Linked DNA regions of Homo sapiens. The protein of the gene in region 2 purifies or fractionates together with the protein of the main gene of each other region. This does not show direct contact. Each region holds a gene or a part of one and is shown on either strand. Other genes may lie near its edges.

Region 1 (2,799 bases), on a different chromosome or scaffold from region 2:
CACCAGCTCTCTGCTCCCCAGGTCCGGGTGGCCCCCAGCCTCTAGATCTGCAGCCCCACCTAGACAGGGTGAGATTCAGCCCCCACCCCTGCCTGGCACGGCATACATCCTGATGAAGGAAGCCTTGGCCTGCGGGTGGCACAGGTGCCCAGGAGCGCCTTCAACCACCAAGCATGACTTGGCTGTGAGGCCAGGCTTTAGCACTCTGTCCACATCACCAGGCTGGCTCTTTTCCAGATGCAGAACTCAACTATCTGCACGAGAACCCGATGCTGAGGTCACTTCATGTTTGGTGGCCTGTGACCTCACAGTGAAGACACAGACCCCGACCTCCTAATCTCTATCTGACTAGCTCTTGCTGTATTTTTTTCTGGATCCATTTCATTCATGAACTTGTTTGATTCTCACTACCAGACTGGCGATTGCCTTATAAACCAGGACGGACGTTGAAACCTGCTTTGTCTCTCCTCCCTTCCAGACCGGGCTGCCTTCCCTCTTTGCCTGTCCTGCACCTGAAGCCTGCAGCTGGGGAATGGGCTCTGGGGGTGGGCTCAGACATTTTTAAATAGGAAAGGGCCCCATTAATGTTTAACACAAAAGGATGTCTTCAAGGAGAATGGATGAGGGGACTTGACTACACACTAGGAGGAGAGTGGTAGGGGGGCACTCGGGGAGGGGAGGGTTTGGACAACACAGAGCTGCCTTACAATACGTGCATGGCCACGCGGGGACATCACAACCCCCTCAGGGAGAAATGATGACATGCGGGGCTAAATAAAACCTACTGTTACAAATCATTTCACCTGTTTCTTTTTTAAATGTGGCTACCAGGAAATTTCAACGCCACATGAGGCTCACATTATACACTGGACGTGGCTGTCTTAGGGAGGGGGAGACCCTGGTCCCAGGTGGGATTTAAGGGGTGAGTGGGGGAAGTGAAGATGTCAAAAGTGAGGCCTTCACTCAGCTCAGCAGGTGTCCTGTGCATGGGGCCCCCGTGGTCCCTCAGTACGGCCAGCAGCGCAGCTGGTGTTTGCTGGATGGAAGGAGACCCACAACTCTTCCGGGCCACCTGTCTAGAAGCACAGAGGCTACTTAGCCCTGGGGACTGAAGCCAGGGGACAGCCTGTGAGGTGGCCCATGGAGCCCCGAACCATGGGTGGTCCCTGCCAAGGCCTGGGGGCGGAAGTCACCTTGGATCTTGACTCTGGTTTCCGGGTCACTCAGGGTCCAAACATACACCATCATGTCCATGCCACCGGAGGCAAAGTGTTCATTGTCTGGGGACCAGGCCAGGCAGACGATTTTTGCATGGTGTCCATAAAAAACATTGTTCTCCTAGTTGCAGGTTGAAAACAAGAGAGGTGGCAGGTCAGGTTCAGGCCGCAGTTGCCCATATCACCTCGCTTATCCCTCATGGCGACAATAAGGACCGAGGTTTCTCACGCGCTAACTCTATGCCAGCGACCCCTGCAAACCCACTGACTCCTCAGAAGCATGGCACGAGGCACCTGCTACTTGTAGAGGCAAGAAAACTACAGCTCAGACAGGCTCAGCTCAAGGTCACCAAGTCACAGATAACCTCCCACTGCCACCTGCACCGCCCAGCACGGGGACAGAGGAGGAGCCCGCCGCCACTCACCGAGTAGCCGTCAGCAACGCTGAACACTGTGACCACCTTGCTGGCGTCGCACACCGCGAGGAAGGCGCCGTCGTGGGAGTAGGCCACGTCGGTCACGGGGCCCTTGGCCTCTAGGAGCTTGCCCTCATCCTTCAGCGTGGTGCCCAGGATGGAATACAGGCGGACGTTGCCGTCCTACGGCAGGGACAGAGAGGAAGTGAGCCACCCCTGAACACACACACCACACCCATCCTTTGTGAAGGGGGGGTCGAGGGCTTAAGAAACTGTGCCGTTCCCACTGACTGCTGCTCTGCTGGGCCCATGCCAGGAGCTGGGCATGGCTCTTCCCGTGGATGGGCCTGAAACCTACGCAGCTCTATGAAAACAGCTGTTGGTACCTCGGGGCACCGCTGGTCTCATGAGGCCCTCAAGCTGGCTGGTGGAGGAAGCCACTCCATGCCCTGGTCACATCCGGCACCTGAAGGACCTGGCAGCACATAGACCCACCCAGCCCCTAGCATGGAGGGCACTGCCACGCCTGCTGCAGGACTGGGTTATCAGAGGGCTGCCCTCCTGGGCTGGAGAGGGGAAATGAGCTCTTCTACAGAGCACTCAGGACTTGGCCAGGCACACTGTGACCAGACCACACACACAAATTCAAGGGCATGAGAATTATGCCGAGGCAGAACTCAAGGGAAACTGTAAAATGTCTGGTTAGTACCGCACCTTGAAGATGCTGGGAAACTTCTGTCACTCTTCCTTCAACCTGTGAGCCGAGCCCAGCCCCAGGGGATGCCATTCCTTGATTTCCTGACCTGCTACCCTCTTGCGCTCCCCTCCTGCCGCCACTCATGGGGCTGGCTCTGAGGCACAGCTGTGCCCTCCTCGGCACTCCCTCTACCTCACTGTCCACAGTCTTGTGGGCACCCGGGCAGTGAGGTGGGGGAAGTGCCGAGGAGGGGAGGGGAAGGCTCCAGCCCTGGGTGGCAGGAGATGGCGTGGCTGGGCCCCAGAGCAGGTCCCACGCCCCGACTGCCCCCATCCTTCCCCTGACCCCTCGCCTTCCCTGAGACAGCCCCGGTACTCACACAGCTCACACTGTCCCCAAATCACCCAGATACCAAGGACAGAGAGCACGGGGGAGAGGAAAGCGACTTACCACACCCCCAATTGCCACC
Region 2 (3,819 bases):
ACTATTCTTATTTTTCTCTGTAAATTTGAAAATATTTCTGATTTAAACATCAACAACAAAACCCCTGTATTTAAAACTCATTTAAACCACCAAAATACCATACAGATTTTAGTCTCTGCTAGAGATGGAAATGCAAATGAAGATTTTATCATAGAATTTTTTTTTTGTCCTACAACTTACTCAGGCAATAATAAAAGAAGAACCCAAGATTCATTATAAATAACACTTTTGAGGTAGTGAGAACTAACTAACTTACTTACTTTCTTTCTTTCTTTTTTCGAGACCGGGTCTCACTCTGTCACCCAGGTTAGAGTGCAGTGGCACGATCTTGGCTCACTGCAGCCTCAAACTCCTGGGCTCAGATGATCCTTCCAACTCAGCCTCCTGAGTAGCTGGGAACACAGATGCATGCCACCAGGCCCAGCTAATTTTTTGTATTTTTGGTAGAGACAGGGTTTCACTATGTTGCCCAGGCAGTTATCGAACTCCTGGGCTCATGCGACCTACTCGCCTTGGCTCCCAAAGTGCTGGATTACAGGCGGGAGCCACCACCCTGGTCAGTAGTGAGAACTTTGTATGTCAAAGTATTTCCTCCAAGGCTCAGTAATAAGTAGGTGTTAAGAGAAATCTTACCAGCAAAGTACCTCCCGGCGGGATCCACCTTCCCATCATTGAAGCGATTGTTTTTCTTGTCGTTATCCACCGTGGCCAAGACAACTGCTGATTGTTCTTTCCAGTTCAAAGCACAGAACTTTGTTCCAATGGTGGCAACATAGCCTCCCGACTGGCGAAGAGCCACGGAGCTGACTGGGGCATCTGTAGAGGTAAAGCAACAGTTAAAAAACAGTACCAGTTTAGTGGCTGAGGCCACTGAGATCACTGTGCTACCTGGCATCTCTTAGAGCGGGAGCCCAGCTCTCGTGACAATGGGAGCGCTCTCTTCCTTCTGTTGAGTAGGGAAGGCTATGTAACCTAGTACATTTGTTGAGTATGAATTTTGTGTGCTGATCTGGGCAGCAATAGATAGAAATGTGAAAAAAACCCAACTCCTCTGGAAGCTCCCAGTCTTGTGGGAAAAGCAGAGAAGTGAAAGCCCAGTGGCCATGATATGGGGCAGGTGCCACATCCAGTTCAGAGGAGGAGTTTCTAATCTAGGGGCACCAGGACAGTCATCACAGAGCGAGTGATGCCCCATTTTGCCAGAAAATGCTCCAGAAAATTCAGAGACACAAACCGAGTTTATTTACAGCAACTAGGTTTTGTGACATCTCTCTCCCTCTCCAATCCAGGATTTGCATTTTTTTTTTTGTTTGTTTTGTTTGAGACAGAGTTTTGCTCTTGTTTCCCAGGCTGGAGTGCAATGGTGCAATCTCAACTCACTGCAACCTCTGCCTCCTGGGTTCAAGCAATTCTCCTGCCTCAGCCTCCTGAGTAGCTGGGATTACAGGCATGCACCACGCCTAGCTAATTTTTATTTGTATTTTTAGTAGAGATGGGGTTTCACCATGTTGGCCAGGCTGATTTCGAACTCCTGACCTCAGGTGATCCACCCGCCTTGGCCTCACAAAGTGTTGGGATATTAGGCGTGAGCCACCACGCCAGGCCCAGGATTCGTCTTTTCTAAGGGGCCCTATTTTATATGTATTTAATTGCAAATTGTTTCTCAGATCCTTTTTTGGAAGTAAGCATGGTAAAAAATAATAAACAGATAGGAATGTAGATGCAGAGATAGTACAATCACATCTCTTCATTATATTACTACATTTTATGTTTTTAAATTTTAGGTTTTCTTCATTTAATATTTTTCCATGTATAAGAAAACTTTTTTTTTTTTTGAGATGGAGTCTTGCTCTGTTGCCCAGGCTGGAGTGCAGTGTCGTGATCTTGACTCACTGCAACCTCCGCCTCCCAGGTTCAAAGGATTCTCCTGCCTCAGCCTCCCTAGTAGCTGGGACTACAGGCTGTGCTACCATGCCTGGCTAATTTTTGTATTTTTAGTAGAGACACGGTTTCACCATGATGGTCAGGCTGGTCTTGAACTCCTGGCCTCAAGTGATCCACCCACCTCAGCCTCCCAAAAGTGTTGAGATTACAGGCATGAGCTACTGCACCCGGCCAAGAAAGCTTTTTTTTTAAATTTATTTTATTTTTTTAAGTGGAGAGATTGATTGCTGTGGTGAATGGTCACAGGAAATAAATTTATCAGAATAGATTTTGAAAGCATTTCCTAAGCACCCCTTCAGTGTAAGATAATGGGAGCTTCAGGAGCCACCCTTAGCTCAAAGCCCTGCTCACACTTTGATTGGAGCCATCAAGGGTCCCAAGGAATGTGTAGGACACACTCTCATTGGGGATCCCAACCTGCAGCCTGAGACTTCTCTTGGTAGCTCTCTAAGCTACTGCTGACACCACAGCTTTTTCCATGGGTTGGGGGCGGGTGGTGGTGGGGGCGGGCTTTTCAGATCACAGGTTGGCATGTGTGTCTGCTGCAAAAGAGACTAGAAAAGGCAAGGGGACCCCATCCCCATTCTACCCTCAGAGGTCACAGTCACTTTACCACAGTCATACTTCTGGGTGAATTAAAAATTTGTTCCCTTTCATTTAAAAATAAAGAAGTTTAAGGCTGGGCGTGGTGGCCCACACCTGTAATCTCAGCACTTTGGGAGGCCAAGGCAGGAGGATTGCTTGAGCCCAAGAGTTCAAGACCAGCCTGGGCAATATAGGGAGACCCTGTCTCTACAAAAAATAAATAAAAATTAGCTAGGTGTGGTGGCACATGCCTGTGGTTCCAGCTACTCAGGAAGCTAAGGTGGGAGGATCGCTTGAGCCTGGGAGATTGAGGCTGTAGTAAGCCATGTTTGCATTATTGCACTCCAGCCTGGGTGGCAGAGCCAGACCTTGTCTCAAAAAAAAAAAAAAAAAAAAAAAAAGTTGAGGTCCCAGTTCTGGGTTGAGAAAGAATGTCCCAAGATTATAGGAATTCCTGATATTTTTTCCCATGGGCTCAGTGAAAACAAGAAACTTCTTTCTCTATCAGTAATTACATTAAGCCTATTCCCTTGGGCCATAGAAAGTGATAAATCCCTTCTTTAGAATTCGCAGGGCCATAAACGCATCACACTCAAATGCACATGAAATTCCATCATGAATTCTATTTTGTGCAGTAAACAAAGACGGTCCTGGTTGATGCTTTATACATCCAAAAGCTAGTTTTCACTTTCAAGGAAGAGAGGCACCTGTTTTTGTTTTGTTTTGTTTTGTTTGAAAATTAAGGTCTTGGCCTGACCCAAGGCAGATAACTGGGTCTTTAACTTTCCATGGTTATCTGAAGGTATTAAGGAAAGACAGGAACTAGAGTGCCCCAGCATCCAAACAAAACTGGGAATGGGCTGGGCGTGGTAGCTCACGCTTGTAATCCCAACACTTTGGGAGGTCGAAGTGGGTGGATCTCTTGAGCCCAGGAGTTTGAGACTAGCCTGGGCAACATGGTGAAACACCATCTCTACAAAAAATACAAACTAGCTGGACATAGTGGCACGCACCTGTAGTCACAGCTACTAGGGAGGCTGAGGCAGGAGGATCCCTTGAGCCCCAGGAGATCAAGGCTGCAGTGAGCCGTGATCACACCATGGCACTCCAGCCAGGGCAACACGGTGAGACCCTGTCTCAACAAAAACAAAACAAAAAATAAACAAAAACACCCCCCCCCCCAAAAAAAAACTAGGAATGTTGCCCCTCATTCAAAGAGGAAGAGGAAAGTATTGACCATCCATAATTAAACCCTGGGTCAAAGTGGGAGGATATGGAGTGGGGACAGAC

What was found.
Region 1: the proteins of RGN (region 2) and WDR1 fractionate together in Homo sapiens (co-fractionation; one large-scale study listed by BioGRID). This does not show direct contact.

What each region holds. Positions count from the first base shown.
Region 1 is NC_000004.12:10,076,111-10,078,909, forward strand, and holds part of WDR1 (WD repeat-containing protein 1), read right to left. Parts: coding exon 2,781-2,799; intron 2,583-2,780; exon of another isoform or gene 2,501-2,582; intron 1,817-2,500; coding exon 1,643-1,816; intron 1,339-1,642; coding exon 1,194-1,338; intron 1-1,193.
Region 2 is NC_000023.11:47,081,415-47,085,233, reverse strand, and holds part of RGN (regucalcin), read right to left. Parts: intron 817-3,819; coding exon 634-816; intron 1-633. UniProt on the Homo sapiens protein: Gluconolactonase with low activity towards other sugar lactones, including gulonolactone and galactonolactone. Can also hydrolyze diisopropyl phosphorofluoridate and phenylacetate (in vitro). Calcium-binding protein.